4 linked regions of the Homo sapiens genome follow. The protein of the gene in region 3 purifies or fractionates together with the protein of the main gene of each other region. This does not show direct contact. Each region holds a gene or a part of one and is shown on either strand. Other genes may lie near its edges.

Evidence for each region.
Region 1: the proteins of TNFRSF19 (region 3) and AMY1C purify together in Homo sapiens (affinity purification with mass spectrometry, with the first as the bait; 2 studies listed by BioGRID). This does not show direct contact.
Region 2: the proteins of TNFRSF19 (region 3) and ZNF865 purify together in Homo sapiens (affinity purification with mass spectrometry; 2 studies listed by BioGRID and IntAct, with this or other methods). This does not show direct contact.
Region 4: the proteins of TNFRSF19 (region 3) and CRNN purify together in Homo sapiens (affinity purification with mass spectrometry; 2 studies listed by BioGRID and IntAct, with this or other methods). This does not show direct contact.

The regions. Positions count from the first base shown.
Region 1 is NC_000001.11:103,752,752-103,759,823, forward strand, and holds the end of AMY1C (alpha-amylase 1C precursor), read left to right. Parts: coding exon 1-58; intron 59-797; coding exon 798-931; intron 932-1,747; coding exon 1,748-1,870; intron 1,871-1,963; coding exon 1,964-2,063; intron 2,064-4,043; coding exon 4,044-4,162; intron 4,163-4,272; coding exon 4,273-4,398; intron 4,399-5,717; coding exon 5,718-5,907; 3' UTR 5,908-5,941; downstream 5,942-7,072. UniProt on the Homo sapiens protein: Calcium-binding enzyme that initiates starch digestion in the oral cavity.
Region 2 is NC_000019.10:55,608,148-55,615,924, reverse strand, and holds part of ZNF865 (zinc finger protein 865), read right to left. Parts: intron 2,333-7,777; 5' UTR 2,307-2,332; coding exon 1-2,306. UniProt on the Homo sapiens protein: May be involved in transcriptional regulation.
Region 3 is NC_000013.11:23,573,269-23,581,045, forward strand, and holds part of TNFRSF19 (tumor necrosis factor receptor superfamily member 19 isoform 2 precursor), read left to right. Parts: intron 1-6,091; exon of another isoform or gene 6,092-6,261; intron 6,262-7,777. UniProt on the Homo sapiens protein: Can mediate activation of JNK and NF-kappa-B. May promote caspase-independent cell death.
Region 4 is NC_000001.11:152,410,821-152,418,456, reverse strand, and holds the start of CRNN (cornulin), read left to right. Parts: upstream 1-4,193; 5' UTR 4,194-4,243; intron 4,244-6,210; 5' UTR 6,211-6,223; coding exon 6,224-6,361; intron 6,362-7,513; coding exon 7,514-7,636. UniProt on the Homo sapiens protein: Promotes cell proliferation, G1/S cell cycle progression and induces expression of the cell cycle regulator CCND1. Regulates proliferation induced by pro-inflammatory cytokine response via activation of NFKB1 and PI3K/AKT signaling pathways.

The sequences.
Region 1 (7,072 bases), on a different chromosome or scaffold from region 3:
GCATAATCTAAACAGTAACTGGTTCCCGGAAGGTAGTAAACCTTTCATTTACCAGGAGGTACGTCAATACATATAGGCATATAAAATATCATCCTATTCATTAGAAAATTCACGGCAGATTCAATTAAAAATGCAATTTCTGTAGGATAAAGACTGAGTCATTTCCTTAAAACAGTGTTCTTTAACCTCCTCTTCTTCACATACAGCATATCTAATTCTTTATCACAACAGGTTTTATGGAGGTACACAGAATGTAGGATACTGATAATAGTTATGTCTTTATTTTCTTTGGAAAATGAAATGAGTTAATATTTATCAAAAAAAGTCAGTCAGATAGTAAATATCGTATTCCTGTGAGCTGTTATTATTATCATTGATGTACAAGACTAAAAATTAGGTAAGTATTCTCACAGGACAACAGGTAACTTTGACATTATGTTTCTTTCAATATTGTAGTGTATACTTTATCAAAAAAAGAATATAAGAATATTACCGATGAAGATAATAAGAATAAGAAAACGATTTTGAGCGTTTCATATAACAAATAGGACCAGGCGTGGTGGCTCTTGCATGTAACTCAGCACTTTGGGAGGCTGAGGCAGGAGAATTCCTTGAGGCCTGGAGTTTGGGACCATCCTGGACGATATAGCAAGACCCTGTCTCTAAAGAACAAAGCACAACAAGTCTAAAATAACTCAGAAATAGCTGAAAGCTAATTTTTATATAATATAAACTTATCGGTTAAAATGCTTTAAAGTCCTTATGCAAAATGTTTTTTTTTCCTAAATTTCTTCTAGGTAATTGATCTGGGTGGTGAGCCAATTAAAAGCAGTGACTACTTTGGTAATGGCCGGGTGACAGAATTCAAGTATGGTGCAAAACTCGGCACAGTTATTCGCAAGTGGAATGGAGAGAAGATGTCTTACTTAAAGTAAATAAATACAACTTTTCCCCTGAACTATTTCATAGATCTGTTAGTCATACTACCCCAGTGCGAGTTATCTTCTGGAACATTCTTATTCAGACAACTATTAAGGAGTCAGTTGTTAATGATAAGTATTCTAGTGCCCTAAACTCTAATCAATCATCTTTTGTATTTAGAGTGTCTGTCACAAGACAGTATGCCTAGGAACGCTAAACTTACCCTAGGAGTTTCTGTCTGCGTACAAGATGAATATACTGGATTTGACTGATGTTTGCATATAATCTTTTAAAGCCAGGTTATTATTAAAATGATCCTATCATTTATAAAGTATGTACAAAGTGTCCATGCTATTGTATTTACTTATACGAATTGGAAATGTAAAATGATTTATATTATAACAATACAATATTAAAGCCTTATTTTAATCTAGTTTGACATTCTGTATAATGTGATGTGGATATTGATCCTTCTGGAGTGCCTCTAAATGATAATGTGCTGAAACCTCTGAAAGGAAATTTTTTAATAACAAACATTTTATATTTGTAATATGAATATAAGTATTCCATACATGTATATACAAATATGGACTATATATATGTAGATTACACACGTGTGTTTGTTTATGAGGTGTGTGTGTATATATATGTGAGTGTGTGTTTGTGTGTGTGTGTGTATATATATATATCTTACAGAGTAACCATCTAATTAGAGAAAGAATTTAATCTTCAGATGCCATGCCTTACAGAAAGAGATGCACAGTAGAGTTACTCTCAAACTATTGTGAAATGATACATCAACGTATATCTTATGTTTCAAAAATAGGAACTGGGGAGAAGGTTGGGGTTTCATGCCTTCTGACAGAGCGCTTGTCTTTGTGGATAACCATGACAATCAACGAGGACATGGCGCTGGAGGAGCCTCTATACTTACCTTCTGGGATGCTAGGTAGAAAACCAAGTTCTCTATTTTTTAACACCTCTTTTAATGATGGTATGAATATTGTGATATTCTATGATAATATAATTATGTAACTTTCAGGCTGTACAAAATGGCAGTTGGATTTATGCTTGCTCATCCTTATGGATTTACACGAGTAATGTCAAGCTACCGTTGGCCAAGATATTTTGAAAATGGAAAAGTAAGTTTTGGAGTTGTTCAAAATATCCTTTTCTCAAGAAAAAAGAGGCAATCTTCTCCTAATTTAATATGACAACTATTAAGTGTTTATTTATTCAACAAATATTTAATTATTGTAAACCTGATACAGGGTTGTGATTTAGTAATGCAGGTTATATTAAAGGAATAAACTTTATATTCTCCATTGAAAAAGAATAGCAAGCTTTTTCAGAGATATGACAAACATCCCCCTAGCCCGCAGGGAAAATAAAAATAAAAATTAAAAAAACCACTTAAAAATAAGAGCTAGGCACAGGGATTAAAATATATACTTCGTACCTTCCTCAGGTTTAATTGGAAGAATATAGATGCCAACCCTTGTAGAGAACTTAAAACATCATCTGCCCGTAGTGAGAACAATATAAATGTCTTTTAAATACTGTTAAAAAGTTATATGGTATAGAAACAAATGATCCAGTTCAGCTGAGTTAAATAGGGAAAGTATACTATAAGAGGAAGGAAATTGTATGTACTAAAGGATAGAAATTTATAGAGAGTATTCCAAGAAAGGTAAGAATGAGAAAAATATTTGGGAGTATGGTAAAGACATCACTCTGCTGAGTAGTTTCAAAAAGGAACAGAGAAATAAGAGTGTAAAGATATTTGGAAAGCTAGTAGAAGGTTTTCTTTTAAACTAAAGGGTTGAGAAACAGCATCAGAGACTTCAGAACTAAAGCAGAAATTCCTCCTTCCTATGAGTCACACAGATATCTAGCTAGCTTTTTTTAGATTCCTTTCAGTTTGAGAAGTCCGCTACTATGTATAACAACTGATTCTATTGTTAAACAGCTTTAATATTTAGAAGGTGTACTTTTATATTGAGACAACTTCTTATAATTTCTACTAATTGGTCTTATTTCTGTTGTTAGGAGTCAGAGAGTTCTTTTATTTTTTCTATTACTATAACATTCCCACTTTGACAGGACTGCTGCATGCTATAAACTCTTAAGTTTTGTTCACTTTTCACCATATGACGTGATTTTAAGGTGAACACTGATAAACTTCCTAGGGTTACTCTGTGTTTTTTAATGAAGATTTCTTAAAGTGCCAATCAGAAAAGCATAATACTAAAAATATGGTCAATTTATAAAAAAAAATGTTCAGATGTAGTATTTTGTACATTTATCTAAAAAGAAGCATGACGGCCTCCAATATTTATTTAGCATATGTCATGTTCAAGGCATTTTCACATATATTACTTAATTTTTATAGCAAAAGAACTCATTATTCTCATTTTACAAATGAGGAAACTGAGACACAGAGAAATTATTTATATTGATTAAATTTTCTCAGCTACTAGTAATAGAGCCTATGTTTTAATCCTGGTGTTTCTAGTACTAATGCCCTTCCCATTTCAATGCCATTGCATGGCTTACAGTGATGTTAAGAAGCCCTTGCAGGCCAGGTGCAGTGGCTCACACCTATAATCCCAGCACTGTGTGCGGCCAGCTGAGAAGGTCAGCTGACCTGAGGAGTTCAAGACCTATCTGGGCAAGCTAGCAAGACCTTGCCTCTACTGAAAATTAAAAAAAAAAAAAAAATTAGCTGGGTGCGGTGGTGCACACCAACAGTCTTAGCTACTTGGGAGGCTGAGATGGGAGGTTCGCTTGAGCCTCGGAGATCAAGGCTGCAGTGAGCTACGATCATGCCACTGTACTCCAGCCTGGGTGACAGAGCAAAGAAGTCTTTGCAGTGCCTTGGAATGAAAAGGAGAGGATAACAATTTGCTACCTTTGTTTGAAATATGGCAAAAGAGAACCAGAGGATAGAGAGATGATGAAGACCCAGTAAAGGGCTATAAAAATCAATGAAGGCATTGGATTCTAGATAAAGTCACTGAATGCAGAGACACAAGTAACAGGATAGGTTGGGTTTGGTTTAAAGGAGAAGGAAGAGATAAATATATATATGCTAAAATTTGGCTTTTCCTCCTGTAATTAAGGATGTTAATGATTGGGTTGGGCCACCAAATGATAATGGAGTAACTAAAGAAGTTACTATTAATCCAGACACTACTTGTGGCAATGACTGGGTCTGTGAACATCGATGGCGCCAAATAAGGTGAGAATATGTATTTAGACATGTCCTCTAATAGTAAATTTCCGTAGCACTTTATTTAAAACAGTTGAAGTTTAAGAATATCAACGTTTTATATGGTATTGTGTTTTTAGGAACATGGTTAATTTCCGCAATGTAGTGGATGGCCAGCCTTTTACAAACTGGTATGATAATGGGAGCAACCAAGTGGCTTTTGGGAGAGGAAACAGAGGATTCATTGTTTTCAACAATGATGACTGGTAAGTAAATATCAATTAAAAATAATATTTTGTACCAGTATGTTCTTGGTTTATTCTTTTTTTTTTCTGTTCATTGACATTTATCATATCTGAAAAATCATGTAGTCAGTGGAGCGAGAAGACAATAGAGATCAAAATTGGGTAGAAGCAAAAGGATGATGGCTGTTACTCCTTCGTTCTCCTGTTTTCATAAGGGCTTTCTGTTGTAAGCAGAATCCTTTCTGTGCACCCTTGCAATATCTTATGCATATATAGAATGCACATTCATATGCTTACCTACACATGCCACAAAATACACAAAGTAATTAATAGAAGGATTGTGAAATCATTAAAAGAACGTTTCTTATAGTCCTGCTCTTTTAATCATGGAAAAATGCTGCCTCAGTACTAAAATATCTTTATTTCTCTTTTTCTCAATGACAGCTCTACCTAGTTTTTTGGTATACTTTCTTCACTTCTCTGTCTCCTTGTGACAAATAACATTTTTAAAGCATATGGATAAATAATATGTATCTTGTGGTTAATGATTTGCTTCAGGAGACTTGAGTTTTAGTTCTGAAACTTCTCATTATTGGCCTTTCATCTGTGATTTTTGTATCCTTTGGCTGTAGTATAAATGATTCCCGAAACTGTAGCTGAGAAGACCTCCTTGCAAACAGTTGAATTGTCTCTGTCCAAGGCCAACTGACACTCATACTTAGCTCACTCTAGTATAAATTATACTTCACTTATGAAAAATAAATAAATACAAAAATATATAAGTCAAGTTGATCTCTTTCCTGCCAAAAAAATGCGTGTCTATTTCCTTAGTTTCCTTCTTTTGTGGATGAAAATACCAAAAAAATCTTTTGTGAAAAAGCTTTATATTTCAAACTATCACTTCCTCATACAAATGCTAGATTGTTTTTATGTACACCCTAAATTCTTTTTGACCTCATGTAGAATAAAAGAAGGTTAAAAAAATAATACCCTTTAAATTTTTAAAGTAATTGGCATTAAGTTCAGTTGAGAAAAAATTTGATTTTACCAAGGTAGCACTTTATCAAAATGTGACCGCTCCCGCCAATCTTCGGTGATATTCTTCAACTTTGATTTTTCGGTTATATTTTCACTACTGAAAAGGAAATTGGTAGGTTTTCTGTAAGGTTACTTTTGGTCCTAGAAAGCTGTTTACACCTACTAGGGAGGCATATGGGTTTTCTTCTTAATGAGACTTCACTGCTTAGGGTTCTAAAACATAAAGTTATGCTGTTTATTTGTGTTAGTCTGTATTCTTGATTTCATTGTTTTGAAGTTAAATCTGAAATTTTATTTTACAGGACATTTTCTTTAACTTTGCAAACTGGTCTTCCTGCTGGCACATACTGTGATGTCATTTCTGGAGATAAAATTAATGGCAACTGCACAGGCATTAAAATCTACGTTTCTGATGATGGCAAAGCTCATTTTTCTATTAGTAACTCTGCTGAAGATCCATTTATTGCAATTCATGCTGAATCTAAATTGTAAAATTTAAAATTAAATGCAAATCCGCAAAGCAATAGCTAAGTGTGTTTCTTTTCTTACATATACAGTAATAGTTACATATCATTAATTTTAAATAAAAGCTCTAATTAGTAAAAAGAGGTTTAAGACACTTGATAGTATGAAATACAATTCCAGGTTACACATAAGTTATTTATTTTGGCAAAAGGATGACTCAAAAATTTTAAAACTAGGCAACAATCTTTACTCATTAAGAGGTAAGACTTAGCTTTCCAAACAGTTTGTCTCCTGTCTACTCTTTTCTCTCCTTGGCATTCTACCAACAAGGCAAACCAAATATTTCATTATTCTTCTCTATTACATGAAAAATCTGTACAAGGGAAGGAAAGCCAAATTTTACCCTTACATAGGTTTCAAAAGAATCCTTTTTCCATAGGCAACATTTACATTTTTATGCCTTTTTATAATCTTTTACCACAAACACATTTAAGTGTTCCTACACACCTTGCATGTAAATTTATTTTTAGTTGTCTTATTTACATATTTTTATGGTCAATCTTAGCAATTTTTAACTTTAATGTAAACCTGGTAAGTTGTTTTAATTATGTACTAGATGCAGATAAAGTCTGACTTTTTCCATTCTAGTTAGGGCATGGTTAATTTCATATGTCCCCAGGCCTTACCAAGTTGTAAAGTAGGCAGCCTACAACCTTGAAATATTTAGCAAGCCTTTTATCTAATTTATGTGATTTAAACCTGCTATTTACATATTGATGATATTTGCATTTTCCAATTTGATCTTTAAAACAGTTTTTATTTCTTAGAGTTTAAAAACACATAAACTAAAAGGCATTACGGTTTTAACTTTCCTCTAAAATATTTGATTTAAGTGCTTATTTTTATTTAAGGCAATCAATTGGTCCTCGTTACAGACATCACACACAACACATATATTGCTACACAGACAAACAGAAGAAGATCCAGTAGCTCTAAGATTTCTTCTCGTCCCATTTCCTAATTGCATTACTGGCTTCCCAGTAGAGCCCTTTAAGAACAGGGATAGCAAACCACGAAGTTTCTAGGGCCTAATCAACTTGTATAGCTGTAAGACAAAAACAGATTTTGAGCAGGATTGATCAGCCTCTAGATTCTGGGATTCCATGAGGAAAACAGAGGTTTCTCCCAAAAT
Region 2 (7,777 bases), on a different chromosome or scaffold from region 3:
CCAGACACCCCTGCCAGTGCCGCCACGGCCGCCCCCACCTCCCCCGCCAGCCCGTTGTCCAGCACGCTGGCCGCATCCGTGCCGCTGGAGCCGTCCGGGGGCTGCAGGCCGCCGGGTGCGGGCGGGAGCAGGCGCTCGGGGGCGGCCTGGTGGACCAGCTTGTGCCACATGAGGTTCTCGATGAAGCCGAAGGTCTTGCCGCAGGCGTCGCAGCCGTATGGCTTCTCTGCCATGTGGACCTCCTTGTGACTCATGACGTGAAAGAGATCCGGGAAGTGCTCGCCGCAGTCCGAGCAGGCGTAGCTCAGCCCATCGGTGGGCCCTGCAGACGTGCCCGAGGCCCCGGGCCCACAGGCCCCCGGTGTGCCTTGGGTGGAGGGGAGGCCGGCTGCCCCGGCCAGGGCGCAGGGCAGCTGGAGCCGGTGCACCTGGCGGTGGCGGGTGAGGCTCTGCGGGTAGCCGAAGACCTTGCCGCAGAGCTCGCACTTGTAGGGCCGCTCGCGCGTGTGCACCACGTGATGCTTGCTCAAGTGGAAGGATTCGCGGAAGCGCTTCCCACACACGGGGCACTGGTGGGGCTTCTCGCCCGTGTGGATGCGCTCATGGCGCTTCAGGGTCTCGCGGCGCCCGAAGCCGCGCCCGCAGATGCCGCAGCAGAACGTCTTTCCTGGGACGCTGGCGCCCGAGCCTCCCGCCCCGCTGGTCCCCGCGCCGCCGAGCAGCAGCGGGTGGGCGCCCAGGAGCGGGACGGGCACAGCGCCGTACACCACCGCCGCCGCGGCCGCCGCCGCCTTCTCGCTGTCTGTGGTGGGAGGGTCGGGGGGCAGGAGGTACGGGCCCGGGGGGAAGGTGGGCGGGGGCTGCGGGGCCGAGGCCGCCCCGTCCTTGGGCGCCTCCGCAGCGGCAGCGGGCGGGGCGTGGGCGGCCTTGTGGCGGAGCAGGCTCTGCGGAGCCGAGTAGGACTTGCCGCACAGGTCGCAGGGGTACACGGGCCGAGGCCCCCCGGCGCCCGCCCCCGCGTGGGCCGCCTGGTGCTTGAGGAGGTAGGAGGCGTCGCGGAAGGCCTTCCCGCAGATGCCGCAGGGCAGGCGCAGGAGGTCGGCCGAGTGCGTCTTCACGTGGCGCTTCAGACTCTCCCTGCGGTTGAAGCTTTTGCTGCACACGGAGCAGGAGAAGGGCTTCTCGCCCGTGTGGATGATCTGGTGCTGGTGGAGGTGACTGGGCTTCTTGAAAACCTTCCAGCAGAGTGGGCAGGCGAACGGGCCATCGCCACCCCCGGTGGCAGGAGGGGGCACCCCAACACCAGCAGGGGCGGCGCTCCCGTCTGCGGAGGGGGCAGGCGCCACGGGCGTGGCTGGAGGGCCCGAGGACACCGTGGAGGGGGCGGCGGCGGTGGCGGCGCTGGCAGCGGGTGCTGGGAGGCCCAGCGGCGGGAGGTGGGGGCCGGGCTGGGGCGGGCCCCCCGCGGCCGGTGGCACGTCCTTGTGGCAGCGGCGGTGGCGGATGAGGCTGGACACGTGGTTGTAGGTGCGGCCGCAGACGCCGCATTCGTAGGGCCTCTCCCCCGAGTGCACCAGCATGTGCTGGACCAGGTGCGAGGACTGCTTGAAGGACTTCTGGCACACGCCGCAGGGGAAGCGCCGCTCCATCAGGTACTTCAGTCTCCGGAAGTAGCCCTTGTCGTCCTTGGTGGGGTCGCAGGCCGCCGCCGCGGGGGGTCCTGGCGGGGTCTGCGAGGGGGCAGGAAGCGGCCCTGGGGCCCCCGCGGGAGCGCCCAGCCCAGGCGTCACCCCCGGCCCGGACGCGGGCCCTCCTCGCTTCAGGTTCCCAAACAAGTGCTGGTGCCCCGAGAGGTCCACGATGCCCCACTGCGGAGTGGGGAAAGCAGCGTCAAAGAGGGGAGGAGGGGGCGCCCCGAAGGCGGGCGGCAGGGGCGGATCGGGCTTCTTGGCTTGGGAAGAGGAAGAGGACGAAGATGACGACGAGGAGGACGAAGAGGAGGAGGAGGAGGACGAGGACGAGGACGAGGAGGGCACCTCCGCCTTGGGCTTGAAGGTGGACTGGGGCGGGTAGTCATACTGCGGGGGAGGGGGCTGCGGCGGGGGCTGCGGCGGGGGGCCGGGGGCGCAGGGCAGGGCCGCCACCGCCTTGGCGTGTTCCCCATACAGTTCCATGGGCTCGAAGCGCTGGTGGTTGAGGAATTCCAGGAAGTCGAAGGGGTAGCTCTGGAAGTGCACCCCGTCCTCGCCCCCGATGCCGCTGCTCCCGCCACCCCCGGCGCCGCTGCCCGCTGGGTTCGCCTCCATCTCCGGCGGGTGGGAGACGGGAGACCCTGTGAAGAGGAGGACGGGGCTGAGGACACGGCCGCGGCGCTGGGTCTCCCCGCAGGTGAATGGAGCTGTGCGCCCACTCATCCATCCTTGTGCGGATCACCCCCTAGCCTTCCAGATTTAGGCTTCCAGTCCCTCTGCCTGTCCACCCCAAAGGGCAGCCCTTCCTCTTGGCTCCCTGGCCCCAGGACTCTCCTACTCACCTTCACCTTCCCTCTCTGTGTTCTCAACTCCCACCCACTCCCCACCTCTTTTCCTTCTCTAATTCCTTCCATCTCTCCCCATCTTTTCTGGGGTCCTGACACAGCTTTGTAGAGGGGACCCTCTCCTCCACACCACCTGCAGGCCCTCTATTATTTGTAGAAACGGGGTTTTGCTTTGTTGCCCAGGCTGGTCTGAAACTCCTGGACTCACGCCATCCTCCAGCCTCCACCTCCCAAAGTGCTGGGTGATTACAGATGTGAGCCAGCGCGCTGGCCTGGGCCGTCTCTACTTTCTCTCCTTTTCAGACTCCAATTGTCCAAGCATCCTGGGGGCCTCTGGACTCAGTTTTCTTTCCAAACCCTCTCAGACCCTCTGCTGTCTCTCCATACTCCTGCACCCTACCCCACCCACAGCCCTCCGTCCTCATCCCTTCAGGTTTTATCCTAAAATGAGCATAATGATAAGGGGAATCACAGTTTCTATCAGCGTAATTAGGAGGGAGGACTCTGGGGCCAGAATCAAATGTAAGCCCTGCCACTTCTAGCTGTGTGGCCACGGGCAAGTGACTGAACCTCTCTGTGCCTCCATTTCCTCATCTACACCTGGGGACCACAAAGCACATGCCTACCTCACAGGACTGTGAGGATTCAACACACACATATGTGCAAGGCTCTTAGGGGGCGGTTCCTGGCACTCTGTAAGCACTCCGTACATAGAAGGTATGGACTGGGCACAGTGGCTGACAGCTGTCATCCCAGCACTTTGGGAGGCTGAGGCAGGAGAGCTGCTTGAGCCCGGGAGGTGAAGGCTACAATGAGCTGTGATCACATCACTGTACTCCAGCCTGGGTGACAGAGCAAGACCTTGGCTCTAAAAACTAAAATTAAAAAATTGAAGATACGATACTGTTATCACTGTTACTACTAGTAGTAGAAATGGGGAAGTCAGGACAAGCCTAGAGAACTGAAAAAAGTCAGTATGGGGAGTGCACTCTTTTAATATTAATAGACAGTAGAAAGGAGAATTTGCTTGCCTGGGAGAAACAAATTCCAGCAAGGGGGCTGGCATATAGTCAGAAGGTGGTCTGATACAATCAAAACACAGACCCTGGGCTTGGACAGACCTGGGTTCAAATCCCATCTCCACTGGGATCCACACTTTCTCCATGTTTAAAATGGGGGAACCCCTATACCGCAGGGAGATTCAACAGGGTTGGAACAGAACATAATGAAACACATGCATCAGCAGAATGCATTCAACCCCCTGAGCTATTTGTACCATCCATGACATCACACACCTGGGCTAAGCCTAGCAACAGAAGCAGGGAGCTTGAGTTCCATCCTTGCCCTTAGTGGGGCTTCTCCTGACCCCCCCATGTCCTTGCCCTTAGTGGGGCTTCTCCTGACCCTCCACCCCCGGCATCATTCTCTGGCACCTCCTTTACACGACTTTTCATTCCAGATGGCAGGTATCCATGTGTGTACCCCACACCACACCAGACCCTCAGCACCCGTAACTGATCTCCGAGTTCTTGGTCTACTTGCTGGCCTGGGGAAGCACCTCCACCAAGTGGGCGGAGGGTGAGTCGGTGAAGGGCCCATGAGGTCTGACCCGCTTCCTGTCCATCATCCCTACCCGATGGGGGCCAGGCTCTAAGCCCAGCCCGCTATGGGGGTCAAGGGGGTTCCTACCAAGGCCTGGACCCTTTATCCTCTATCCATCGGGCTGCTCTCTCCTCCCACAGGTGAGGGGTGAGTGTCTCTTCCACCCCCACCCCAAACGCCATCCTGGAGTGAGATATTTTTAGTCTCCAGCTCCGGGTGTCCTTGTCCTTGGACAAGACTCAACATCCCATGCCCTTCACACCCCCTCCGTTTAATCTGATCTCCGGAAAGAGGACAGGCTTGGCTGGGGTGGTAATTGGAAGGCTGTAGGTGGAACCTAAGTTGGGGAGACAGCTCTGGAGGGGGCTGACTGGCCAGGGAGGCAAACACAGGCCATAAGGATGCAGGGAATAGGGGGTGATTTAGGGCGCTATGGGGAGGGAGGGCAAGAGTGTTTGGGGAAAGAAGCCCCTGACTAGCTTGTCTCCACTAGAGCACAGGTTAATCGTAGCTGTCACTGACTGGACATCTCCTAGAGGCCCGCCACGGTTCTAAGCACGTTACACATATTAATTCACTGACTCCCCACAACTCTAAATAGGGGCAGCTGTTCCCGCCGTTGGATAAATTAGAAAACTAAGGCATGGAGAGGCAAAGTGAGTTGCCATGGTCACGGAGTAGGAGTCTGGATCAATGGGCTTGAACCCCATTCCCACCCTTGCCCCCACAGCAGTGTTTCACTGGGCTGTTCCCCGAGTGAACAAAGGTGAGGGGAGAACTATCAGGATAAGAGCTTTATTTAGGGATGTCTTCTGGGTTATGAGGGGTGTCTATACAAGGGGCCTGGTGGGAGAGGGTGGTGGTTACTTTCTCTTCTGCCTACAGTGTTCTTCGCCAGATTTCAACAAGACTCCCTCTGGAGCCTCCTTGGGTCTCTACTCAGCACTCCCCACCCCATCACTCTCCAGTCCCTCATCCAGCCGCAGGTGTTTCATTATAGTTATTGCCACCAACTCATGTCATTCCTTTTCTGTGTGTTTACTGTTTGGCCCCTCTCTAGGAAAGCAAGGACTTGGCCTGTCTTGCTCGCCCCTGTGACCCCAGCACTTAGCGTAGCACTGGCCCAGTGTGGGTGCTTGACAAATATCTGCTGGTATGTGAAAAGGAAACACCACCTTCCTAAATTACCAATGGGTCCACAAAGAAATCATACATTAGAAAATGCTGGCCAGGTGCGGTGGCCCACACCTGTAATCCCGGCACTTTGGGAGGCCAAGGCAGGAGGATCACCTGAGGTTAGGAGTTCGACACCAGTCTGGCCTACATGGCGAAACCCCGTCTCTACTAAAAATACAAAAATTAGCCAGGCTTGGTGGTGGGCGCCTGTAATCCCAGCTACTTGGGAGGCTGAGGCAGGAGAATCGCTTGAACTCGGGAGGTGGAGGTTGCAGTGAGCTGAGATCGTGCCACTGCACTCCAGCCTGGGCAACAAGAGCGCGACTCCATCTCAAAAACACAAACAAACAAAAAGCAAAAAAACTGCTTAGCAATTAATGAAAATGAAAACACAACATACCAAAGCTGAGGAGGTGCAGCCAAAGCAATGCTCAGAGGGAAATGCACAGCTGTGAATGTCTATCTTGGTATTTGTGGAATGAACAAAGCGATGAGACTAAGCTGATCAAACTCCCAGAGGAACGGAGGGGGACATGTAGCAGAAATGGAGCTAAATGATCCCAGGAATTCCTGGGAGAAGCAATTCTGGGGACAGTGATGTTATGAGGAGGGCACTGAGGGCAGGGTGTGGAGATGCTGAAGGGGATACATCAGTGGTGGACAGAATTGATCAGGCTTATGATAATCTCCACTAGGAAACCAGAAACATTCCCTCTTTCATACAACTCAAGCCTAAACTGGTATCTTTTTAAGAGGGGATGTCATAGGAGGGTTTTATGCAGAGAGAAGCATGATGGGGAGGGACCCACCCCTCCACCACCACCACCAAGGGACAGGAGTCCCACAGCAAGTGTATTAACGGTTCACATTTATTGTTTGACCAGTTTGATATTTGTTATTGCCTGGAGGCAGCACAGTCCTGTACCATGACTGGGCCCATCTTATAAGTGGGGAAACTGAGGAGCAGCATGGGGAAGGCATTCCTCCAAGGTCATGTGGCCAATAAAGAGGAAAGCAGGTAACTGATTCCAGGTCTTTCTGATGCCAGACTGTGGGCCGTTCTGCTGCAACAACGCTGCCTTGTGATGAAATTCTGGTTTGTTAATAAAGAGTAACGTGCGCATATAACACTGGATGTGTGCTTTCTACCAGCCCAGCACTCTTGTAACTCTGATGTGTGTGAGCTCAACGAATCCTCCCAGTAACCCTAGAAGATGGTTACAAGCATTGACTCTGAAATACAAAGGAAGAGACTGAGGGCCAGAGAGATAAATTAAACTTCCAAAGTCAGGCCAGGCATGGTGGCTCATGCCTGTAATGCCAGCACTTTGGGAGGCCGAGGTGGGTGGATCAACTATAGTCAGGAGTTCGAGACTAGCCTGGCCAATATATAGTGAAACCCCGTCTCTACTAAAAATAAAAAAATTAGCCGGGTGTGGTGGTGCACACCTGTAGTTCCAGCTAGTGGGGAAGCTGAGGCAGGATAATTGCTTGAACCCAGGACACAGAGGTTGCAGTGAGCTCACGCCACTGCACTCCAGCCTGGGTGACAGAGTGAGACTCTGTTTCTCAAAAACAAACAAACAAACTTCTAAAGTCACATTGTTAACTAGTGGCAGGGCCAGTGGTTGAAGAAAGGCAGCAAGGCTCCAGAGTCCCATCACATGCTGTCTTTCGGTATTTCTCCCTCCAAAATGAAGGAGGACCCCCGCCCCCAATCCCACTTCATACTGGAAACATGCATTGCTCCACCCATCTCCCTGCCAACAAATCCCAAGTCTCTTGGCTTGACCCAAGACCAGAACAAGTCACCAACATTTGTTGACCTCTAACAAGCATTGTACTTAGGTGCCTTATGTGGCTTGTTTCATTCAAACTTCACAACAAATGTGTTATTATTATTCCCATTTTACTGACAGGAGGACTATAACCAAAGCATGTCTATCCTCGGTCCCAAACCAAACAGTAACCCCATCTCATTCAAAAGCCACAGTCCTGACTGGGCACGGTGGCTCACGCCTGTAATCCCAGCATTTTTGGAGGCCAAGGCAGGCGGATCACCTGAGGTCGGGAGTTTGAGACCAGCCTGACCAACATGGAGAAACCCCATCTCTACTAAAAATACAAAATTAGCTGGGCGTGGTGGCACATGCCTGTAATCCCAGCTACTCGGGAGGCTGAGGCAGGAGAATCACTTGAACCCGGGAGGCGGAGGTTGCAGCGAGCTAAGATCACACCACTGCACTCCAGCCTGGGCAACAAGAGCGAAACTCCTTTTCAAAAAAAAAAAAAAAAAAAGCCACAGTCCTTACAATGACCTCCACAGTCTCCTGGCTGCTCTTCCCATGTGCCCACTCTATTCCTGCTGCAGGGCCTTTGCGCTGGCTGTTGCTGTTGCCTGTAATATTCTGACTCTCAGGCAACCATCTCGCTCACCCCTTCACCTCCTCCCCATCTTTGGTC
Region 3 (7,777 bases):
AGTGCATTTTTTTTTTGTTTCCATGATAGATATGTCAGTCAGCTGGATTCGTCTGATTATTTTCCAACTGTTCCTTCTACTTCTGGACTTCTAAGCTGTCTAAACACAGTAGCTGCTACCCATAATTTAACATAATTTAACACGTAAAATAATTTTCACAAAAAGTTTAATGCATCAATGTGATGTGGAATTATATATGTATTTGTGTGTTTGCCTCTGTGTGTGTGTGTACATACGAGTTTGGCATTATATCAACACATATTTGTGTGTTTTGAAGGAATTGATATTTTCTTAGATGATGCCAGTGGCATCCAAAAACAGTTTAATAATTAAAGGTTAATTTTCCTCCAGGGAAATTCCCAGTGGGATTCTGTGAAACTTCAGTTGACAAACTCAATGTGCATTTCAAACATGATATGATATGTGTTTCATATCATGTTTGATTATGTTAAGACTCTTGAGCATGTTTTCATTATCTCTTTGCTTTTCTTCCTTGAAAAAATATATCTTGGGGCCAGGAGCGGTGGCTCACGCCTGTAATCCCAGCACTTTGGGAGGCCGAGGCAGACGGATCACGAGGTCAGGAGATCGAGACCATCCTGGCTAACATGGTGAAACCCCATCTCTACTAAAAATACAAAAAATTAGCCGGACAAGGTGGCAGGCGCCTGTAGTCCCAGCTACTTGGGAGGCTGAGGCAGAAAAATGGTGTGAACCCGGGAGGCAGAGCTTTCAGTGAGCCGAGATGGCGCCACTGCACTCCAGCCTGGGTGACAGAGTGAGACTCTGTCTCAAAAAAAAAAAAAAAAAAAATCTATCTATCTATATCTTGTGTGAAAAATTTTAATTTAGTTACTAATAAAATTTTATACAAATACAGGACTCTCATGGCCAAACAACTGCCCTCATAATAGGGCTTATCACCCTCTTTAGGATTCCTACATATACAAGATTATTACTAACATGACCTAATATTTATTAATTCACTCATTATCAATTAATTCAATATCAAGTACTTGTGCAAGGATAAATAACATGTGCAAGATTATAGGAATAATTCAGTGGCAGCATTGTGATCTACATTTTTTTTGTTCTGGGGCTAGGTGATTCATTCTTTTTAAGAATTACACAAAGCTGAACTTGACTGTCAGCAAACATTATAGCCAAAATTTTGGCCAAAAATATGGGCTCCAGTTTTTTTTTTTCCTTTTATATATTTTGTAAGAACTATTAGACATTTTTAATAGTATTTTCTGTCAGGATGGCCATAAAGGACCTCCCTAAGCCATGAAGGCATAATCTGTTCTCCCTCTGCTTCAGGAGTGAACTGAACTCAACCATCTGGCATTGGTTTAGTCGGATTCTCTTTCTGTGATGGCAAGGCCAGTCCAAGCCACCCTGGAAGAATGAGTGATTTTGTCCCCTTTAAAGGATGGTTCTTTAAAACGTTGTCCACCTGGGTGAGCTCTGTGATGGGAGGGCAGAGGGAGGCTCCCTGGTGGCTGTGTTGGCTGTGCTTTAATTTCTCCTCTACTGTCACTAGTCATTCAGCTTTGGCTCCAAAGTTGTTACCTCAAACCCACCCACTTGCCAAAATCAATACTCACTTCTTTAGATTAAGTAGGTAGTTTAAAACCCTCCTTTGTGACTTAAATTTTCTCTTTGATGAGAAGGGGAAGGAGAAGTCATGTGGGGGTTTCCAATGACTTCATAAAACCATTCCTTCCAACATAACCCACTGTCTTTGAGAGGAGTTCTGATAAAGATAGTTTTCTCCATCCTGTTAAATGCCCCCCATTCTTTGGTGGCTCTATAGCTTAGCACCATGGGCTGCTGCCCAGCCAGCCTGGCCTCAAGCCAGCCCTAGGTCGGGGAGTCCACCATGTTCATCAGGAAGGAGAGAAGGAGAGTCAATGGACTGTCTCTTCCCTCATCGAACTCATGAAAAGGGTCTAGCCAATGAGGTACTCAGGGCCAAACTCACAAAGATCAGTGCAAGTGCTGCAACTTGTAACAACTTTGCTCTGTAAGTGTCTTGAGCTCCACTTACAGGAGGGGGCTATAAAAATAGCCTCCTTGGGTTTTTCATATATATTGGTTTACGCACCCATGGTATGGTGAAGATTATGTTAAGATACAGAAAGCCCAGATTCTGATTCCAGCTTTGTTAATTAACTTGGTGTGCAGCATTCAGGAAGTCACTGGGCATTGGCCTCACGGTGCTCCCTCAGCCCCATGCTGATAGTCTATAATTGGCAGTAGTGGGTATCGGGAATTACTTAAATAGCTAGGTCTTGGGGGTTCCTCCTCCACTTATTTTCTTAACTGTATTTGGAAAACTTTATTACTCTTTGAGATTCTCACTCTCAATTACTAATTCATCCAACAAATTTTTAATGAGAACTTACTATGTGCCAGAAACTGTAAACCAAAGAGACAAAATTTCATATTCTCCTGTAGCTTGCATTCTATTCCACTTTTTTCCCAAGGAATAGTGATTTACACTAGAAATGACTAGAAGTTAGGCAATTTTTCATTAGCTTTGCTACCAGCGAGCTAATTTATCACTGAAACTATTCTTTCAGGGGTTTTTCAAGTTTTCCTTAGTTCAACTTTTGGGGAAAAATATTTTAAACAAATGCACTTTGTGTCAGCTCAGATATTGCTAAAACTATCTTCAGAAAACTAACTTTTAACATAAATCTTAAAAACAAACACCTCTATCAAGATTGTCATAGCAATTTTGCTTTTCCAGTAAAAATTTTAACCCATTAATGATATGCAGTGTTTTAAAGGAAGTAAAATGCTCCCAGTCCTAATTACAAGCATCCAGTTTCATTTTGCATGAGCCTAAGGATCACAGAATTCTTTTTTTTTTTTTTTGAGACCGAGTCTTGCTCTGTCCCCCAGGCTGGAGTGCAGTGGCGTGATTTTGGCTCACTGCAACCTCTGCCTCCCGGGTTCAAATAATTCTCCTGCCTCAGCCTCCCTAGTAGCTGGGATTACAGGCACCTGCCACCATGCCTGGCTAATTTTTGTATTTTTACAGAGACGAGGTTTCGCCATGTTAGCCAGGCTGGTCTCAAACTCCTGACCTCAGGTGATCCGCCTGCCTCGGCCTCCCAAAGTGCCTGGATTACAAGCGTGAGCCACTGCACCCGGCCCACAGAACTCTTTTTATACTACTATGGTGCTCAATTGTGTGCCTGAGTTTTTGTTCAGACACTGTCTCCAAATCATACAACACTCAAATGAGGGAAAGTGGGAACTATAGTGTTTGTTCCCTCAGCATCTGAGGGGGACTGCTTTCAGGACACCCTCTTGGATACCAAAATCTGCAAATGCTCAAGTCCCTTACAAAAAATGGTATAAATTTGCATATGCTCTGAATCATCTCTGTATTACTTATAATATCTAATACAATGTCAATGCTGTGTACATAGTTGTTATACCATATTGTTTAGGGAATAATGACAAAATAAAGTGTACATGTTCAGTACAGACACAACCATTCATTTTTTTTCAAATATTTTCAATCTGCAGTTGGTTGAAGCCATGATGTAAAATCCATGGATGTGGAGGGCCAACTGTGTTTAACTTAATGAGTCTCTTTAAAGAATTAGATGAATCTAACAGCTGGAGTCCAGAGGTTCAATGTCCTTTTTCTCACCGTCAATGATCATTTATTGATTGATGCTAGGCATTGTAAGAGGATATATTGCTACTAAGAATGGCTATTTAGTAAGTGCTAGGCATTGGCCTAAGCACTTTAAATACCTTATCTATTAATACTTACCAACCATCAATGAAGCAACTCATTTTACATATGGAGAACCAGAAACTTAGAGAGGTTAAGTAACTTTTCCAAAGTCATGCAACTACTGAATGACAGGTTGGCATTGGGACCAGATTGTCAGATGCCCAAGCCCATTCAGGCTAACAATAGGTTCTCTCTCTGTTGTAAGCTAACAGGCTAACCGGGAAGATCAGTCAAAACACGTAAAATGATTCAAGAACTAATGAACTGAGTAATGTGTTACTACTGTCTCTAAGGACAAAAGGAGGTCAGAGAGAAGAAGAACATTTGGTTGAAGTCAGAGAAGGTAGTTCCTGAGCTGGCAGATTCAATTCCACTCAGAAAGCTTTGGTTGAACATTTATTTGAATGATTGATACTGTCAGAGATACAAATCGGAACAAAATATGCCCCTTCTCTGAAAGTGTTTTTAACTCCTTGAAGAAGAAAGTTAGTACACAGAATCTTATGATACAGGACACAATGGGCAAGTGCTAAATTGCCACAAACCTTGGAGCAAGGAAATACATAGGCTCAGAATTGAGGGAAAACTCGTGAGAGCCGTGGCTTTTGAGCGAGGTGCTGAAACTGGAGTAAGACAAGTAGGTAAAGCTCAGAGGTAAGATGGGAGAGCACGAAGAGGAAGTAGAGAGCAAAGGAAGGGCCACGCGGCGCAGTTTATAAAGCCTGCTCCAGAGGCGAGGCAAGGCTGGAAATAGGTGTAGGGCTGCACCTGGACATCTCGGAATGCTAATCTAAGGAGCGCAGAATCCATTCTTTACAGTGAGGAACCTCCTGTGACTCTTCAGCCTGACAGTAGCAGTGATGAAAGGCGGGAAGCGGGGTTGATGACCGAGGCAGTGCTGTGGTGAGGGGTGGGGAGGGTCTGCATGGTGGTGAAGGAGGTGGTGGGCACCAAGACAAAGAGAGGACGATGGGGGACTGCGTGAGACCTTGCAAAGGAAGATGCAGTAACTCAGCTTAGAAGTGCTGAGTATCCATCGTGTGCTAGGCCCCGGGATATCAAGGAATTAGGAGATGCCCTCGGGAGATCCAGGTGTAGCTGGGGAAGGAAACAGATAAAGAAGTTCAGCGGGATGTGGGAATGAATATGGTAGTGATGTGCACTGAGGGCTGGAGTCTGATCGGGTAGCCGCTGGGAGATGGGACAGGGAAGCACACACTTGCCTTGAGGTTCAAATTAGATAACGTACATCATTTGGAAATCGTTTACCAATAAGTCGTTATTGGGATCTATATTCTGGATGTGTTAGATTTGAAATATACAACCTCTATCAAGGTGTGACATCGGGAATAATATTTTTAACATTGTTCACAAGTACCTAGTATAGTGCTACGCCGTTGGAAGCCTGGGATCACAAGCTGTGCTTTTGGGCAATTAAATACAACAACCTATTCACTCATTCATTCAACAAATACTGATGGAGGGGCTCCAGTGGGCCTTGGGGTATAGACAAGAAACAGGGACTTGGGTCCATCCACACAGTGCAGTTGAGTGGGAAGTCAAAACCAACACGTGAGAAACGGTGGATGCCTTGGTACCAAAGTCATGCACCGTATCTTGGGTGAACGAATAGAACAATACTGCTTGCACTTTTACAGCATTCTACTGGTGGAAAAGTATTTTACAGACGCGATTCTCTTAACCCTTTCAGCAAAACTGCCCAGTGAGTCCCCGGCCCTGGCCCCGCCTCGCACGCGCTGGTGCTACAGCTGTGGTGCAGACGCCCTTCCGCTGCGAGGGTGCGGCCGTCTCGGGGCGAGTGCTTCCCGGCCTGCAGGAGGCGAACTCGGGCTTCCCCGGGAGGCGTCCGTGGGAACGCGCACCTGCGAGTCCCTGCCGGCTGAGGAGCCGAGGTCTGCGACCTCTGCCGACCTGAGCTCAGGCGCAGCAGCGCAGACCTGGCCGCCGTATCCCCTCTGGCTGGGATGCGGGCCCACGCGGGAAAGGCTGAAAGGTGGGGAACACCCCGGCGGAAAGGAACCCTCCCTCTCTGCTCTGAAGGAAAGTTTCCCAACACAGCCATGTTCTTGGTGGTCTCCGGTCCCCCATCCCCAAGCCCCCAGTCAGCCTCACACTCATCCGCTTCAGTAGCCGCGGAGTGGGGGCCTCCAAAGAACCCAGCTGCAGAGCAAGTCCGGCTGACGCAGTGTGCGCTGGGGGCGGGGCTCTGGACGGGGGCGGAGCCACGGCGAGAGCCGCGGTGAGGGCGGGGCCCGGGTGGGCGGTGCCCTGAGCGGGGCTCCTAGTGGGCGGGGCTCTGGGGTGGCGGCCGTTGCCGGGCTACGGGAGAGCGCGGAGCCCTGCGCTGGGAGGTGCACGGTGTGCACGCTGGACTGGACCCCCATGCAACCCCGCGCCCTGCGCCTTAACCAGGACTGCTCCGCGCGCCCCTGAGCCTCGGGCTCCGGCCCGGACCTGCAGCCTCCCAGGTGGCTGGGAAGGTAGGTGCGTCGCTGTCCCCGGCGCGCGGCGTCCCGCGAGGTCTTCAGCCCTCGCCCTGGTGGATCCCCGCTGGGTGGGAGCCGGGAGTGGAGGCGGCCGCCCTAGGGAGGGAGGAGCGCAGGCGGGGGCTGCTCACGGGCGGAGTACTGCGCGGCGAAGGGAACCCCCGAAGGGGCTGACCGGGTCTCGGGGCCGTGACAGGCGGCGAGGCGGTGGGAGGGGAGCGTGTGAATTCACGCCGGGTCCCCGCGGGCGACGCGAGCGACGCGACCTGGACTCCTATCCGGGATATTGTAAATAGATCTGCTTGTGAGGCTCACGACTGGGAGCCTGTCACTCTGCCCAAGCCCGACCCGGCCCCGGCGCCCGCCCGCGTCCTGCGGAGGTCCCCTGAGCCAGCGCGCGGCTGCAGGGGTCTCGGGGCCGCATCCCGGACCAGCGCCAGCGGCGGGAGAGCGTTGTCTGTGAGCGGCCCAGGGTATATTCCTTCTGTGGGAAAGAGTTCCTTAGAGTTCAGCAGGAATTATTAGTATATTGATGAGTAGAGCCTGTGATAGATTTAGAGAGTGAGAAAGCCAGCTCTTACAATGCGTGTAATGCCATCTCATGGGACAGAAATTTGGCTAATATACTCCTGGAGATCAAGTTTGGCGGATCAAAATTCTGTGATCTGTTTTGATGGTAGTGCACTAGTCATCCAGTCTCCGTTCACTATTGTAAGAAACCCATGTCATTTGTTTGCATGTTAATAAAGGACTCAATATGCATACAAAATCATCACCATTGTTCAGTGTTTCTTTTAACTGAAACAGTTTAACCCAAGATATGTATGAAGACGTAGTTTTTACCCCATGACAGTTTCTTTGACTACAAAACCAAACAATTTCTTTATGTAAACAGGAAACAGTTATTGTTAAACATACCTCATGCAAACGATATTTCTTAGTGTTGTCATTTCATGATCAGATATTAGATGCAAAAGGGAGGATTACATTGCGTTACTTCAGGATTTACTCAGTACCTTTTCTGTGGTGCAGTTTCACCTTAGGCGTTTTTGCCAACACTGCTTTCATGTAGTCTTAAAAATTCCAGGCAGTGCTTATTATCTAATTGAAAGGTATAGAACTGGAGGGGTGAGAATTGAGTCCTAGTGTGGAAGACAATTTTTGACATTCACAGAGATGTGAGTACTTAAAAAGAAAGCTTCTTTGCATAACACTTATCAAATTGTTCTGAAAGTAAAACAAAACATAGAAATGCATTTTCATTTGCACAATATAGCCTTGGCATCAATGCATGAAGCATTATCATGAGCTCTGTTCTTTACTTTTTAATCTATGAAAATGTCTTACCATATCTACTTTATTACCAAAGCCACATGGCTTTACTGACTTTAGGAAACTTTTTTCCATAGTAAGTGCTAACTCTGAGAGGTGGTGTTAGTATTTTCAGAGCAATCATAAAAGTTATTTGTTTCTTTGGCCGGAGTGTGTCTTGCAACTCTGAGTCCAGGCT
Region 4 (7,636 bases), on a different chromosome or scaffold from region 3:
GGTGTCTCCCTGTCCCCTTCATCCACCAGCCAATCAGGACCTGACAGCAGACACTGATGAAGCTGCACTGGAAGAGACACTTCATTAGACAGACGGAGTTTAGCCTGCTGAGCAGTCTGCCTCGGCCTCTGTGTGTGTATGTGTGTGTGTGTGTGTGTGTGTGTGTGTGCGCGCGCGCGTGCGCGCGAGTGTGTGTATGCGCGCGCGAGTGTGTGTATGTGTGTGTGTGGTAAGTACATAGCTGTTTGGGGCAGTCAGGAGATAACGATCATGATGTAGGACTGGAGGGAACCCAAAGAAAAGCACCACCTGCATGAAAGCCCAGCTGTTCCCCCTGGCTGAACTTATAGAGGCTTTTGCCAAACATTCTGGATTTTGCCACTGAACAAAGGGGAAGGGGGAAGAAGGAGAACTGTCAGTATGAAGAGAGATTATTTCCTTGGGCTTTGTCCCCGGCATCTCACAGGGCCTCTGGATTTGAGAACTTGCCCTGTTTGTTACTCTCTGTGGTCCCATAGCTAGTTCACGTAGTGTTTAAGCTGGAACATACCATGTTGAGCTGGGTTTAAGTCAAAGGGAATTTTCCAGACTTCAGATAAGAAACTTCAGCCAAGATGCAAAGCAGAGAGGTTAAGATGCTGGGCTCTGAAGTTGAACAGGTTTGGGTTCAAATCCTGCCTTTACCATTTATTTTCTGTCTTTGGAAAATTAAGTTAGTTAATGATAATTTCTTCATCTATGAAATTGGGATAATATCTTTGCTACCATAGGGTTGTTGTGAGGGTTAAATAAAATGATATGTGTAAGTTTTTAGCACAGTGTCTGTACATAGTAGGCACTTAGCAAATAAAATAAAGTAAAATAAAACTAGCAAACCAAAACAAGCACAGGTAGGGGGTGTTGCTGACATAGACCCTGATCTCTCATATTCCTGAGCAGTGATTCTTTACCCCAGACCTTGTGATATTTGACAATATTTTTTAGTTAGCATTCTAAAAATTTCTACTTTTCATTTTAAAATAACTATTTTTGGTGTGTAAAGCCTGTTTGCCCAATTGGGCTAATTTTCTGGAAAGCAATCTTAATTTATAGCCCACTAAGTGTGGCAAATACTGCTTGTATCTTGTAGAAATAAATCAAGTAGAGGTCAGCAATACATTGTTGAGTAAGTGTATAAGAAGGAGTCAAAGTGCAAAACTGGGTTTTCATTGCTGAGTTGCTGATCCAGCACCTGGTCTCACTGCCCTCCAGCATACCCGTAAAATGTAACTGCTAAGTAGACTCACTAATGTCAACTTAAATAATAACCACAGTGAATCTCTCTTAAAAAAAAAGTTACCTATTTGAGAATAGGGCATTGCAATGGGAATACATGTGCCATAGTAAACTACGTGCATATTCAGGAGGTAAAGGAAAACAAAAGTTCTTACAGGAAAAACAATGAAAATTACATAATTTTATTGAAATGTGTATTCTTGGCTACAAAGATCAATAACAATGGTGATGCTAATATGAAGTTGGACAGGCAGCTGCTGGACTGATGTCCTCACAGAAGTGTTTGTTGTGTAAGGCTATTATGGCCTTTGTGTAAGGTTGTGGTTTTTGCAGTCTTTTGTGATAGTTGTGTTATCAGGTGTACAAGCATGAGAACTCTCTCTTCGCAGCCTTCCTTAGCTCTATATTTGTCAAGGATTTTTTTGAAGACAAGTGACTCCATTTTGATTCTGACAACTTGCACACTAACTTATAACATCTCCTCACCAACTTTATAAACTAACAAACTTACACAGTCAATTACAGGCTCAGTCCCAATCTCTGCCAACTCATCTCCCCCAGCCCCACCTGCACACTTCAACCCACCTCCACTGGCCCAGCACACACATACAGTTCTTTAACCTCTACTTCTATGGTGCCCCAGCTCCTCACAGCTCAGTCCTGCCCCAGGCACACATAAAGACCTATTAGGCTTTGGAGGCAGGCAGACCTAAGTTCAAATTCAGGTCTAACTTCCTAGCTATGTGACCTTAGGTAGTTTACTTAAGTTTACTTACTTACTCTCTGTGCCTTGGTTTCTTCATCTATAAATTGGGTTAATAATACCTACCAAATATTCATCTTCTAGATACAGCCTCTGGCTTGTTACTTCCCTAACTTACCCTCAGTTCCCAAACCTTTCTGGAAGTTCTAAGCCCCATCAGAAAAAGCTTCAAACACCACCACAGAAGAAGGTCTAATCGGCTCTCCCTCTTGTTCTCCAACTTCACCCTCTCATACTGGCCTTCTTCTAACTCTGATCAGGCAGAAGCAACCTCAGCCCCCTCTTGCTCCCAAAGGTTGAAGCCCCTACTCTGCTTTTCCCTGGCTGGTATGCCTACCCCACCTTCACCCCAGGACTGGAGCCAACCTGTCCCCATGTAGACAGATCTCTCCAAACACAAAGCCTGCATCCTGCCCTCCTGCAGTCTGGAACTCCCCAGTGCTCTGTGCCCTGAGGGGAAGTGCTGGAGGCTGTGCTGTTGCTACAGGGCTGCCCTCAATACACCAGTCTCTTCAACCAAGGCCCTTACCATGCCTTCCTATCCTGTTGTTCCCTTTCCTGTCTGTTGCATGCTGATCTATAAGTGAGGATGGTAAAGATGGCTTTCCCTTCCAGAGTCACTCAGGAAGCTACACAGTATATATTATCTGCAAAGTGCCACTCAAGAGCACTCTTTGGGACTTGGCTTCTGAGCTCAGAAAACTTCCTCCTCAGGAATGGTTCTTCATGCATTGAGGATAAGTGTGATGTTCATAAGGTGCCAAAACTCAATGAGAGAAGAATAAATGGCAGCATGGTGCAACAGAGAGAACACAGGCCTGGAGTCTGAGGGGCTCTAGTCCAGCACCGTCTCCGCTTCACAGAGTGGCTACTTCTCTGAGGATTTCTCAGTGTTCTCATTTATGAATTGGGCTTAGCCATACCACCTCAGAGGATTGCTAGGGAGATCAAATAAGATGAGATGGTAATGAAAATGGAATAAAATCAAATGAAATGAAATGGCAATACCATTATCATTAACCTCTTGGGGACTTACCCCTGGGATGGCCAGGCTATAGACTTCATGAGAGTTGAAACTGCTGCCATCGTATTCAACACTGTATTCCTAGGGCCTTAGCCCTCTGCCTGAAATGGAGCAAGCTTTCCATAAATATTTGCTGATTAGCCACCAGTTGAGTTTCCTGTCCTTGCAATGAGGAGTTACCACATGATCATGGTAAGCCTTTTTTCTCATCAGCTACAAAATGCTACCTACCCATAGCATGGGGTGGGGAAGGTATTAACTTTTTTTGTTTTAATTAAAAATGAGACCAACTTTAAAGAGATGAAACTGGCTTTCTTGTGTCTCATACACTAGGTGTGAAAGGCACTTACAAAACAAGAATTCAAAAAATGTTCTAAGTAATAACAGTTCTAAGTAACATCACCACAAAAACATGTGTGCCCTCTCAGAGTGGCTACTTTGTAAAAGTTAACCTCAATAGATATATTCTTGAACATTTATATTAAAAAAGGAAACAGTGGCCAGGCACGGTGGCTCACACCTATAATCCCAGCACTTTGGGAGGCAGAGGCAGGTGAATCATGAGGTCAGGAGTTCAAGATCAGCCTGTTCAACATGGTGAAACCCTGTCTCTACTAAAAATACAAAAATTAACTGGGCATGGTGGCAGGCACCTGTAATCCCAGCTACTCAGGAGTCTGAGGCAGGGAATTGCTTGAACCCAGGAGGCGGAGGTTGCAGTGAGCCAAGATCGCACCACTGCACTCCAGCCTGGGCGACAGAGCAGGACTCCATCTCAAAAAAAAAAAAAAAAAAAAAAGGAAAGAGTCCCATAACTTTGTAGGCTCATAGAGACAAAGAATGTTCACCAGGACCCCAGCCTGTACCAAGCACTGCTGAGCCCATCACAATGGAAAGAAGCTTCCCTGTCAAGAGGACTCAGCTACAGAAGGTACCAAATGTGGTAGGAGGGGCCTGTTAATTAGACCAAGGCAGTCACACATCAGCAGGTAAAACAGAGACAAGAGGAGGTGTGGCTGGGCTGGGCTGGATCTTGGATGAATCAAGCCTTCCCATAGGGCAGGATATCCTGTCTAAAACAAGAGCCTTGGTTAAAACCCCTATAAAAGGTTCTCATCACACTGACCTGGTACTCCTCACACCACTTAACAGCCACTTGTTTCATCCCACCTGGGCATTAGGTAAGTCCCCTCATAAGAAACCTCTTTCTCATTCTCAGTGTCTTGGTGATCTGAGCTCATAAAACTGGGGCAGTCAGGTATGGACTATGCATCCTTCAGAGCTAGCTGTGAGCACTGGGCAAACCAACGCTACCGTTGGGAAACATGCTCTCCTGAAGCAATCAGGCTTTCTCCTCCTCCCTGAGGCTGGCCTGGGAGCAGCTCCTCTCACTGGGAAACTGTGTGGGCAGCGGCTATGGGGCCACCCATGTGCCTTCCTGGATCAGCAAAGGTTTCTTTTTTCTAAGGCTCTGGAAGCTTCTTTGCAGTGCTGAGAGTCTATGGGATCAGAATCAGTTTACTTATGCCAACCTAGACAATAAGATCAAACTGTGTCATGGATGAAGGGGTTTACATGATTCCCCTCTCCTACACCAGGGTGATATTTAGGCAAAATATGTGTAGATTTTTCTAAGGAATCTAAAATGTAACTAAAAGGTCATCTTATTATTTTATTATCTAAAGGTCAGTGGTTAAAGTCTGCTACATGGTTTTAAAAAAAAAGAAAGATATTTTTCATCTATGTTGAGGAAAACATCCCCAGTTTTTTACCTTGATGAAAAGTTTGCCTGAAATTGTTGGTTACCAGGTCCTAGAAAGGGTTTCTCCTGAACAGCCCACCTTTTGCTATGACTTACTGAGTCCTCATGGCCACACTAATCTGCTTTTTCTAGAACTCAAGTCTCCTTCCTTCCTTTTTTCTCTTTCTTCTCCTACCTATATCTGCCTCGTCCCATCCTCTCTCTGGCTTTCCAGCTGCTACAGGCTCCATCTCCCCTTGCATTTGAGACTTGTCATCTTTGATACCATCTCCTCCTTTGGGTCTCTCCAAGGCTTCTGCTTAATGAATCTTCAAGTCTCTTTTCCTTTTGCTCATGCAACCAAACCCAGGCCTCACCTCAACCTACCTCTAGATTTCTGGCTAATGAAAAAGAAAAGCTTTCCCTTTGATTAGGAACCAACTCATAGGTCACCAGAAATCTGGGCCTGATGGAGCCACGTGCCTGTTGGGCAAGCTGACTTCTCTGATAAGTCTCAGGGCTGTGGACAGAGGCGACATGCAGAGAAACTTGGACCCTCAGAACTGGAAGGCCTCCCACCCAAAGAAGGTTCCCCCCTCCTGAGCATTCCCAGCAGGTGGTAGCCCAGTTTCTTCCCACTTTCCCAAAAAAAACAAGAAGGGAGGGCTGTGTCCCTGGAATTTCTGCTTGGCTCCCATCCAAGACAGGGGTTGACTCACAGATGTATTTACTTCCTTTTGGTGTTCCCGATGGGACCCTAACACCCTTGTGATAAATAAATAAATCCTGTCCACAGGGTACATTCTAGAAAGCCCATTGCATTTGGGTTAAGGAAAAATGGATCCTAGGATTTCTTGGCTCCTTAAAAATTGTGTGGCCTAACTTCTCTGAGCCTGTTTCCTCACCTATAAAAAAAAGTGGAAATAATAAGGATTAGAAGAGATGATGTACAGGAAAGTGATTATATAGGTGTACAAAAATTATATGTGTGTATATGTATATAATAGCATAATAATTATATTTAATAAGGAGCACTTAATATAAGCCAGGCATCTGCCAAGTGCTTTTTATGAATTATGTCTTTAAATCTTCACAATAATCCCACAGAGTACTAATATCACCTTCAATTACAATGAGTAGTAAACTGAGGCATGGAGAGGCAAAGCAACTTGTCCCAGCTCACACCATACTTAAGTGGTGGGGCCAGCATTTAATCCTGACTCAGGAACCTGCCTCCATCCTGTGTGCTCCTCCTTCCCATACATAAGATGCATTATGTAGGAAAGGACAAAGGAAAACTAAAAACAGAGCTGAACGTGCAAGGAAAGACCTAGCAGCAGACGTGCTATAAAGGAAATAGCTGAGGTTGATTATGGAGCCTCCAAGGGAACTTTTCATCTTTTCCAGGTTGACTTCAAAGATGCCTCAGTTACTGCAAAACATTAATGGGATCATCGAGGCCTTCAGGCGCTATGCAAGGACGGAGGGCAACTGCACAGCGCTCACCCGAGGGGAGCTGAAAAGACTCTTGGAGCAAGAGTTTGCCGATGTGATTGTGGTACGGTGTGCTGAGCCGGGTGGAGAGGGGACATAGCAGGAGAGTGAAACCTGGTTTGCCTGCAGAGGCCTTGCCTGGGGAATTTGAGGAGGCAGCAGCTAAACCCAGGCCTGCCGGGACAGATGGCAGCTGTGCAGGCAGAAAAAAAGGTGAAAGAACCAGAGATGGTCATGGGAGTTGGCAAGTCCTGGCTCTTTAGATTAAAACCTTGGTTTTAATTAATTCTAACTTAAAGACAAGGTAAAAGGGCTCTAAAAGGACAACTCAGACAGGAGCAGAGCCTTGGAATATTTCAAAATGAAAATAATTGCTGCTTTCTGCCGCCTCTTAAATTTGATACAGTAAATATTTCCCACGTCTATCTGAAATGTAATCATCCATTCATAGACATTCATTAGAAGCATAGCTCTGGGCTTGCACGAAGCAGTTACTCAAAAATATTAGCAGACTGATCACATCAGAAATGAAATTTTGAAGAGCAGGTTGTTAATAGCTAGGGGGAGACTTTGGAGCCTCACCCCACCCCACCTGGCAAACCAGAACCAAGGCCTTGATGCACTTTCCTGTCTTTGGTTTGCATCTAAAGCAACCAGGATGATGATGGCCTTAGGGACAAGGACATATGGGCACAGAAGGATGCTGCATCCACATGCTCAGGGCAGCGCTGCAGGGGCCCACTGCTTCCCTCCCTCTTTATCATGGGGAAACATCTGGGCCTCAATGAGGAGCGCACAGAATTCCCATGGGGCTGTGTTCCCAACCTGCTGCTCTTTGTGCTGGGCCTGCTGAAGAGACTAAGGCCTCAGTGCCAGGGGCAAGGTGCCAAGGGCAGCCCAGACAGTCAACTTGAGAGCCCAAACAGTTGCATTGTGAATTCAATAATTTATTAACTCTTCAATAAATCTTTATCTAATTTTCCTGTAGCCCAGAAATTGTGCCAAATAGAGGCTACCAAACAAAAAATGCTCTCTACACTTGAGGGAGAGAGACGGGACTAAAAAAAAATAAAGGCAATTAAGTCTTGCTGCTGCTCTAGCCGTATGTGTGTGTAGTGTGGGGTCTGAGGCAGGGGAAGCTGGCAGCAGATTGGAAGGGACCTGCCCATGTCCTCCTCAGGGGAGGGATGCTGACTCCACCTCATCTTCTCCTCAGAAACCCCACGATCCAGCAACTGTGGATGAGGTCCTGCGTCTGCTGGATGAAGACCACACAGGGACTGTGGAATTCAAGGAATTCCTGGTCTTAGTGTTTAAAGTTGCCCAGGCCTGTTTCAAG